Homo sapiens: one gene and its partners. The protein of the gene in region 2 purifies or fractionates together with the protein of the main gene of each other region. This does not show direct contact. Each region holds a gene or a part of one and is shown on either strand. Other genes may lie near its edges.

Region 1 (3,658 bases), about 150 Mb from region 2:
TAATCTGAATTAAGGAAAATGGGAAAACTATGACAGAGATCAGATCAGTGGCTGCCAGAAGTCAGGGGTTACAGCAAAAACTTGACTACAAAAGGACAAGAGGAAATTGTTCAGGGGTGATGAAAATATTCTATGTCGTAACTATGATGGCAGTTACAGGACTGGATGTATTTGTCAAAACTTACTGCATTATACACTTAAAATTGATAAATATATTGTATATAAATAGTACCTCAATAAAACTGGTTTTTAAAATGGAACGAAAAGAAAAATGTAAGTTTGAGAGCAGGTATATTAGTCTGTTCTCACATTGCTATAAAGAAATACCTCTAGCATGGCCAATATAGGGAAACCCCATCTGTACTAAAAATATAGAAATTACCAGGTGTAGTCACATGCTTGTAGTCCCAGCTACTCACGAGGCTGAGGCACAAGAATCACTTGAACCTAGGAGGCGGAGGTGGCAGTAAGCTGAGATTGTGCCACTGTACTCCAGCCTGGGTGACAGAGCGAGACTCTGTCAAAAAAAAAAAAAAAAAAAAAAAACCGAGACTGGGTAATTTATAAATAAAAGAGGTTTAATTGGTTCATGGTTCTGCAGGCTATACAGGAAGCATAGCAGCTTCTGCTTCTGGGGAGGCCTCAGGAAACTTACAATCACGGCAGAAGGCAAACAGGGAGCCGGCACTTCACATGGCCAGAGAAGAAGGAAGAGAGCGGGGAGGTGTTACACACTTTTAAACAACTAGGTCTCATGATAACTCACTCACTATCATGAGAATGGCACAGAGAGGATGGTGCTAAACCATTAATAAAGGATCCACTCCCATGATCCAATCACCTCCCACCAGGCCCCACCTCCAACCCTGGGGATTACAACTGGACATGAGATTTAGGTGGAGACACAGATCCAAACCATATCAGCAGGTGTCTGTCACCCCACTTCCTCCGACAATGCAGTTAAACAGAAGTGCCACCATGCATCAGCACTAGTTACTAGGAAGGGCAACCACATGCCAGATAGTGGAAACTTCAAGGACTTTCTGCTAATTGTTGATTAGACTCGATTAGAAGAGAAATAACAGGAGGCTGAGGCAGGAGAATCATTTGAACCCAGGAGGTGGAGGTTGCAGTAAGCCAAGATCGTGCCGTTGCACTGCAGCCTGGGCAACAGGGCGAGACTTCATCTCAAAAAAAAAAGAGAGAGAGAAATAAACTAGGACCAAGGAAGTAGCTTGGTCTCCAAGAAATAAGTAGAGATCCTGGATACACACAAAACCTGCTAACTTGCAGAGGCCAGGACAGGCCCTGAATAAGCATGGGACCCTCCATTTGGAGTTCTCAGCTGCTCTGGAATGGTGGTATCTGAGGGCACCCCTTAGACCTAGAATTTTCACCAAGCTTAAGGCCTCAGGTAAAGACAGTGGATTTTCTTCTTCTTTTTTTTTTTTTTTTTTTTTTTGAGACAGAGTCTTGCTCTGTTGCCCAGGCTCGAATGCAGTGGTGCAATCTCAGCTCACTGCAACCTCCAACTCCTGGGTTCAGGCAATTCTCTCTGCCTCAGTCTCCCGAGTAGCTAGGATTACAGGTGCCTGCCACCACGCCTGGCTAATTTTTTTGTATTTTTAGTAGAGACAGGGTTTCACCATCTTGCCCCAGCTGGTCTTGAACTCCTGACCTCGTGATCCACCCACCTTGGCCTCCCAAAGTGCTGGGATTACAGGCATGAGGACCGCGCCTGGCCGAGGGTGGATTTTCTTAAACCTCCTGGGCAGGCCACATGCCCTGGAAATAAGACAGGCTGAGAACTGAAGGAGCCTTTCCTGAAGAATGGGTCAATAAGTAGCCAACTCCAGACAGCTGGTTCTGCAGAAGCAGCGGGGCAGCAGCAGCAGCAAGAAGGACCAAGCAGAAAGAGGAGGCCCCTGATCACACAGGAGGGCAGCACAGCCACCCCAAAAGGGCTCCAGTGAGGGCCAACAGGACTAGCTGAATTCCAGATAAGCCCAGGGCACTGACCACACGCACTCGGCTTCGTTCCCCAAACCCTATGAAAACAACAGTGAAGACTATGAAAGGCATAAATTGCTTTTATGGGAGAATGGGAAGGGAGCAAGCAGCAGATGAGATTTCAACAACTTTTGGAAAGGCAGGAAGTGAAATAGTCACAAAGGAGGGGCCAGAGGGGAAGCAAGCTATATGTCCCATTGGCATGCGCAGGCATGAGGGACCACGGGAGGCTGGGGTAAGGCATGGAGCTAGAAGCAGGGCTGCAAGTTTGAACAGGCTGTTGGGGTCCTGGGTCCGCTCCCAGCACCTACCCACCCACCCAAGAGATCATATCTCCCAAAGCCACTCTTCACCAGAGAGTGGCAGTTTATTCTAGAGACTTTACCCATAAAGGCTGAGGAGTCAGGGACCAGACGTAGCAGAGGCCAAGTGGAGGCATGAGGCTAAAATCAGGAAGCAGGTGAAGTATTCCTACTCACCTGGGTGACCCTGTCCCTCTCCCCACACTGGTTCTCAGACACCAGCAGAGGAGTATGCGCACCCCACCAGCCCTGCAGAAGGCTGGTGAAGTCTTCCCTGGAAAACTGACAGATACCCCCAAAAAGAGACTTCCACACATACATTTTCCCTAGCAGTCAAAAAGTGAGCCTGAGATCTGATCACTCTACAGAAAACCCTGTGGTCAGGCCTTGGGAACTATAACTTCTAGTGGATATTTTCCACATATCCCCATTTTCTTTCATTTTTTTTGAGACAGAGTCTCGCTCTGTCGCCCAGGCTGGAGTGCAGTGGCGCAATCTCAGCTCATTGCAACCTCTGTCTCCCGGGATGAAGTGATTCTCCTGCCTCAGCCTCTCGAGTAGCTGGGTTTACAGACATGCTGAGTCACCACGCCCAGCTAATTTTTGTATTTTTAGTAGAGACGGGGTTTCACCATATTGGCCAGGCTGGTCTCAAACTCCTGACCTCAGGTGATCCATCCGCCTCGGCCTCCCAAAGTGCTGGGATTACAGGCATGAGCCACTGTGCCCAGCCAAATTCCCATTTTCAACAATGCCCTGCCCTTGCTTGAAACCCAGGCCCCCAGTGCCTGAGTTCCAGAAGACCTTGACAATAGTGAGTGCTCAAAAGGGCGAGATCGTTCTTTCTTATTGTTGTTCTTACGACTAATTCTCATCAAAACTCTTCTTCGTAGATGCGCAGATTTAAGTGTCCTCTACTCTGTCACATCAGCCTTCCTAACTCGTCTTCATTTTCTACCTTAATATATTTAGGGTGCGTTTGTGTGCAAGTGTGTATAAAAATATATGCCTTCTCATTTCATCAAAACTGGAGATTTATGTTTCTATTTCTTGTGTTCCTGGTCATTTTAGATGATTTCCAAGATATGTCTTTAATCTACCCTCTTAAAACTAAATAATTAAATGACCATATTTCTAAAATGTAGCATTTAAAGGGAACATGGCTTTTAAAATCATCACGGCATACAAAATATCATTATTAAATGGATCACTTTGTGCTAAAAGTCAATCATTTCTATTGTCATAATATTCAGCAAATGTCACCAAAAATCACTAGAGGTCCTTAGCTATCAGCAGCTGCTTATGGAGAGACATTTCTTTAACAGTCCAGGTTGCCACTAACTGCC
Region 2 (3,658 bases):
GGGCACGGTGGCTCATGTCTGTAATCCCAGAACTTTGGGAGGCTGAGGCAGGTGGATCACCTAAGGTCAGGAGTTTGAGACCAACCTGACCAACATGGAGAAACCCCTTCTCTACTAAAAATGCAAAATTAGCCAGGTATGGTGGCGCATGCCTGTAATCCTAGCTACTCAGGAGGCTGAGGCAGGAGAATCGCTTGAACCCAGGAGGCAGAGGTTGTGGTGAGCCGAGATGGCACCATTGTATTCCAGCCTGGGCAATAAGAGCAAAACTCCTTCTCAAAAAAAAAAAAAAAAAAAAAGACAGAGCCATGTTCATGGTGACAATCCTGCCCTTTGTTCCTTTTTCTTTTTTTTAACTTGGGATTGGATGTTTGGATTATTTTAAGTTTTGTTTCTGATATGAAAAATTTCGTGAAGCAAATCTTTGTACTCATGTAAAAAATAGACCAAAGATTTCTGAGACAGATGCAAAATATGGTTTTGCATCTTATTTTATATACATTTACATAATAAATTTGAGGCTGATATATTCCTCTTAGATTCTATGCCCAATAATATAAGCTTAGGAATGACTAAGTCTCAGCACTAGAGTCCCGACTACAAAGAGCATTTTCAAATTCCTTCAAGTTTGGTTGAATTGGACATGATTTTAATTTTCTGCCAATTGTTACCCCTCTTCAATTCTTGGAAAAGTTTTCATACTTTTTGTGTAATCTGGCAATTGCACTCCTTTCCCCAGTTGTGGGATACTCTCTGTATCTTTTTTCTTGCATGTCTGTCTGTCTCTCTCTTTCTCTCTCTCCCTGTCTCCCTCTCTCTGTCTCTGTCTCTGTCTCTCTCTCTCTCTCTCTCTCTCACACACACACACACACACACACACCCACTCATAGAGCTTTAGGAAGCAACAACACTATTTGTGTACGTATGTCACTTAATCTGGCACTGCCATGACAAAGTCTGCTTAGACAACCCACCTGAGGGTCGAAGACTTCACAGTTTATGACAAGGTTTTTCGGGCTTTCCAAGTCCAAGGCTTCTACATCATAGAACAAATCTGCTCTGCAGAATCCAAAGACCTACAAAGGAATGAGGAGCTGTTAGTGTGTGTGTCCAGGTGGTGTGAAGATGACCAGCCAGAGTTAGCTTCCAGACATTCAGAAAAGGAAGAAGTGCTTTAGAAAAATCAGGGTAATATGATCAGATATTCCCACCAGTCGTTCAGCAATCTTTCCTTGTTAACACTTTGGGGAAAGTGCAGGTGGTGAAGGGTATCACTAAAGTTGCTGTGGTTTTTTTCATGAGCAGGCACCAGCACTGGGCTTCCCCATGGGTGATGGAAATGATGAGGAAAACCACATCATTGCTGCCTTGCCTTTAGGCCAACCCTTCTGCACTGGAGACCTCAGTTGCCTGTGCCTAGGACAATGAGGAATGGTGTCAAAGAGGGATTTTTACAACTTCAGCTGGTCCCTTGGAGGAAAGTGTTGGACAGGAGGGCATCTGTATAGCATAAAGATGGGTTTTCATGGACATTGTCAAGGCAAGTGTCTGCTGACTCCACCCAAGTGCCAGGGCTACAACTGGCTGCCACTCCTGTGCTCCAGATGCTCCTAAACCCACCTGTGAAAGATCGACTAGGACAAGAGGACGGCTGTCTGCTAGAAGAAATTGCTAAGCATTGAGGTTCTGAGTACAGTTTGGGAATCAGAGAGACCTATGTTAATCCTGGCTTCTCCATTTCCTAGTTGTCTGAGTTTGGGAAAGTTACAAAAGATTTCTGAAAGTCAGCCATTGTAAAATGGGGATAATACTATGTACTCACAGGTTGTGGGAGGGATTAATTAAACAAGAGGATGCTGTAAAACACTTACCCCTGAGCCTCCTCTTCAGCTCTGGTGCTTCAACTCTGGGTTTACATTATCCACACCAAGATCATGAAGGGTTTGTTGGCCATAGGAGTAGGGGAGGGAGGTGTCTTTTCTGGTGGGCGCTAAGAAGGTTTCTAGACCTGGTTCAGTGTGGACATTAGAAGAGCTAACAAAGGTACTAATGGATGGTTTCTCCCTTTTGACCAGGGAGAATGTGTTGTTAAACCTCAGAAAAATCCTGGACTTGGCATCATAATTAAAATTCCATTTCCTAACACTCTCTAGCTAAGTGCCTTTAGGTAAGTGGTTTTAATTTCAGGTCCCCTTGTCACAGGAAATGTAGGCAGATACTTGCTTTTCCTTGTCAGCAGGATTTTCATGAGGCTCTCCTGGCAATAACAGATGTGGAGGTGTTTCTTTAACTGTAGGTCACCATGCAAATGCCAGGTGGTATTAATAATGTCTTCTGGCAGGTACATGGGAATCTATTTGTAAATGATTAGAGGAAAAATCCCACTGGACTTTGTATGAGAATAACTAAGTTTTAATCTCAGCTTGGTTGTGAACATCGGCAAGACCTTTCCTTTGCTGATTTTCAGTTACCTCCTCATTTGTCAAGTGGGATTCCTGTGAGTGTGATGATGTGGAATTAATAAAACCACTTGGCGTAGGGTCTTAGTACGAACTGCTATAGTTCTAACTAAGCCTTTAATCCTAATCAGTTAGAAACTTAGTTTTAAGTTTAGGTATATATCATGTATATTATAAAATCATGTTCTTATGGTTCGCTTATGTTCTCTGTGCCTCAGTTCCCCTATCTGCTAATTTGGGATTAAAAATGGTATCTATCTCATATGGTAGTGTGAGGGTTAATAAGTTATCATAGGCTGGGCATGGTGGCTTGCGCCTGTAACCCCAGCACTTTGATTTGTAATCCCAGCCGAAGTGGGTGGACACCTGAGATAAGGAGTTTGAGACCAACCTGATCAACATGGTGAAACCCCATCTCTACTAAAAATACAAAAATTAGCTGGGCGTGGTGGTGCATGCCTGTAATCCCAGTTACTCCGGAGGCTGAGGCAGGAGAATCGCCTGAACCCGGGAGGCGGAGGTTGCAGTGAGCCGACACTGTGCCATTGCACTCCAACCTGGGCAACAAGAGCGAAACTCCATCTCAAAAACAAAACAAAACAATAAGTTATCTGATGTGTAAATCACTTAGAAGAGTGCCTGGCAGGTACTAAGTGCTTCCCAGATGATACTTTGTATTTCACAGACATTTCTTCCTCCTTCTCCTCCTCCTCATTTTCTCCTTCTCATTCCTCTTCTCCTTCTTCTCCTTCCTCTCCTTCTCCTTCTCCTTCTCCTTCTTCTCTTTCTTTTTTCTCTGTGACTCTAGTCAACGATCACAGACATTTCTTATACTCACATTGGGGTGTCTGGGGAAATGGTGTCTGGGGCAGTTCCGCACAGAGAAGTCCACGAAGTAACCAGTTCCTTCCCCTCCTCTCTAGAACAGATGGGATCAAAATAGTTTCAAGAACAGACAAAGAAAAAGGAAAAAAAAGCAGTAGATAACTACCATTCAATATTTTTTAAGGCAGTATGAGAATTCAAAATCACCAGTATGTGTCATTTTTTAAAATGGTTTCTGCCTTTTAAAAATGTATCACCTAAGTGATAAGGTGAATACCAGTTCACTGAAAAGGTTCAAATAATAAATATATGATAAAGTAGAGTGTGAAAAATCACCTCTCCTGCACTCCAACTTCTTCCCAGAGTTTTCATTC
Region 3 (2,576 bases), on a different chromosome or scaffold from region 2:
CTTGAGAGATGACATAACGGATGTGGTTGTTGAGGGGCTGGATGGCGGGCCTTAGTTCCAGGATGTGCTCCTTAGAGCCGAGGTGGGAGAGGTTGAACTTCATGTTGACGGGGCTGTCCATGTCGACACTCTCTAGGCTGATCTGTTCAACCTGGAGGAAGAACAGGAAATGATTTGGGACAAGCTTCTACAGCACAAGCAGAGGACTAGAAAGAGATCAGCTGCAGGGGCTTTGGTCACGAGGACAGGCTGTGGCTTCCCACTCCCGCTTTCTGCACTCTCCTTACCAGCAGTGGCTGTGAAAGAGGCTATTGTACATTTTTGTCAGTTGGAAGAAAAGGCCAATTCCATCGAGAATACCCTGTAAATCTTTAGGACTTCTCACTCAGCCTTAACAAGGTAATTAAAGGTACAGGACTGGGCTTACAGAGTGTTCCCATTTCAAGTTTTTTTTGATGAGTTTATGAAATATTGTGCTAATTAATAATTTTTAAAAACTAAAATTTAGGTAATGATTTTTTTTTTTCTGGAGTCAAAATAAGAAGTACTGCTGTTGGGCATCAGCAGGGAATGCGCCCAGGGGAATCTTCTGTCTGAAAGCTGGGCTTTGATTTGTAAGGTAAGTGAATGATGAGTGAGTTTACTGGGAGCTATCAGAGGTACACAGAGTGAGTGATCTGCAGAGTTCTCAGGGCTCCAGTTCAAACCAGCATCTTTGGTAAAAGCCAGTGGGGCAGGGCCCAGATAAACCAAGTCTGACTTTTGCTCAGAGGGTTGGGAGGAGCACAAATATATCAAAGTAAGATAGGATAAAAACCACAATGCTTTGATTGGGCATCTGTTAAGTGAGGACTTGGCAGTGGTGACCCAGAAGTGCCCATCAGTGTTCAGGCAGAATTATGTCCTAGTACCCCAATGGGAAAGTTTATAAGCAGAACTTCTGGATTTGTAGTTTGGGAACTTGATGAATATCTCAACTGTCAAACATCAGTTGGGTATCTTAGTCTACTTAAGGTAAATGTAACACTGGCTTATTTATTATTATAAAATAGCATCATGAACTTTTTGGCTAGACAAGTCAGGTCATATAGACAAAGATTCTGAGGCCCAAAAAACTGAAGCAAGTTGTCCAATTCACACAGCCAGCCAGTTGTTGATTAGGTTTTTTGGTGGGGTAATTTCTCAGTCATATTAACTGCAGAGAGTGGTGAGTGACGACCTCATACTGTCTCAGATCTTTGGGAAAATCATCAAGATCTCTAGATATGAGATATTAATCATTCATAGGAACTGAACACATGTGATATATATGTCAGGCATTGTTCCAGGCAGTTCACATGTTTCAATTCAATTAACCCTTCCATCAGCCTTCAGAGGTATTATTATTCCCATCTTACAGGTGAAAAAACTGAGGTTGAGAGAAGTTAAATAAACACAAACTATGTAACAGAGGTAACAGATAGGGAGGGCCAGGGAGTTACGTTCAAAACCAGGTAGTCTGCAGCCCACCCCTTTAAACACTGCCAAAATGCAATTAGGGAAAGGAAATATCAGTGGCTCGCAATTTCCAACTTCAGTTCCTTAAAGAATACAAGTGATTTGGAAGACAAAACTTCTTAATGAAGGAACAACTGTCTTAAAAATAAAACAAAGAATATGAGACCTACTTGGTTTCCCTAGTGAAAATTAAAATCAGCCTTGTATGCTATACATTTATAAAACAGAACTGAACAAATTAAAAATAATTTCATTTTTTGAATCATGTAAAAATAGCTCTTCCCGAGATGGACATACCCTCCCACATAAATCAAAAACTACAACAAGAGAAAATGCTCTGAAACTGTGAATCTTAAAGTCTTTTCTCCCAAGCTTTGTGTTTTGATCTAATAATTCAATCACTTTAATTTACTTGTCTTTTCCATACTGGGTCCATTAATTTATCCATTAAATTCAAGGTATGATTAACTTCAGTGAGGCTGAAAACGACGTGAACTGCACTGTATACATGACTCCGTAGGGATAAAATTTTGTGGCAACACAGAGTGGGATATACTCACAGCAGTGGGATCAGGTTCATGAATACTTCTCTTCTGCCTGCTGTCTTTCTTAGAATAGCCGTTGATTTTGCACTCGTAGCATGCTTCTGGGGACAGAGCATTTTCCTCATCGACCTCTGTATCCAGTGACAGGTACTGCCCCTTGTTAAATCCCATTCCTGAGACACAGTGGCTATTTGCAAAAAGCAAAGTATTGTTAGACTTTATCACTGACTTGACCATAGTTTTCCAGTGGTAGAGCAGACTCTTCAGAAACACGAAACCAACAGAGCAAACACTAAACTCATAAACATAAAACCCTAATATTCTTTGCAACTCTTTTATTTTTCTTTTAGAGACAGGGTCTTGCTCTGTTTCCCAAGCTGGAGTACAGTGGCACGATCTTGCTCACTGCAGCCTCAAACTTCTGGGCTCAAGAGCTCCTCATGCCTCAGCCTCCAAATTAGCAGGGACAACCGGCACACACCACCACATCCAACTAATTTTTTTTAATTTTCATGTTTTGTAGAGATAGGGTCT

What was found.
Region 1: the proteins of HRG (region 2) and CRTAP purify together in Homo sapiens (affinity purification with mass spectrometry; one large-scale study listed by BioGRID and IntAct). This does not show direct contact.
Region 3: the proteins of HRG (region 2) and FBN2 purify together in Homo sapiens (affinity purification with mass spectrometry; one large-scale study listed by BioGRID and IntAct). This does not show direct contact.

The regions. Positions count from the first base shown.
Region 1 is NC_000003.12:33,120,514-33,124,171, reverse strand, and holds part of CRTAP (cartilage-associated protein isoform 1 precursor), read right to left. Parts: intron 1-3,658. UniProt on the Homo sapiens protein: Necessary for efficient 3-hydroxylation of fibrillar collagen prolyl residues.
Region 2 is NC_000003.12:186,672,507-186,676,164, reverse strand, and holds part of HRG (histidine-rich glycoprotein precursor), read right to left. Parts: intron 3,379-3,658; coding exon 3,298-3,378; intron 1,077-3,297; coding exon 975-1,076; intron 1-974. UniProt on the Homo sapiens protein: Plasma glycoprotein that binds a number of ligands such as heme, heparin, heparan sulfate, thrombospondin, plasminogen, and divalent metal ions. Binds heparin and heparin/glycosaminoglycans in a zinc-dependent manner.
Region 3 is NC_000005.10:128,259,679-128,262,254, forward strand, and holds part of FBN2 (fibrillin-2 precursor), read right to left. Parts: intron 2,230-2,576; coding exon 2,058-2,229; intron 152-2,057; coding exon 1-151.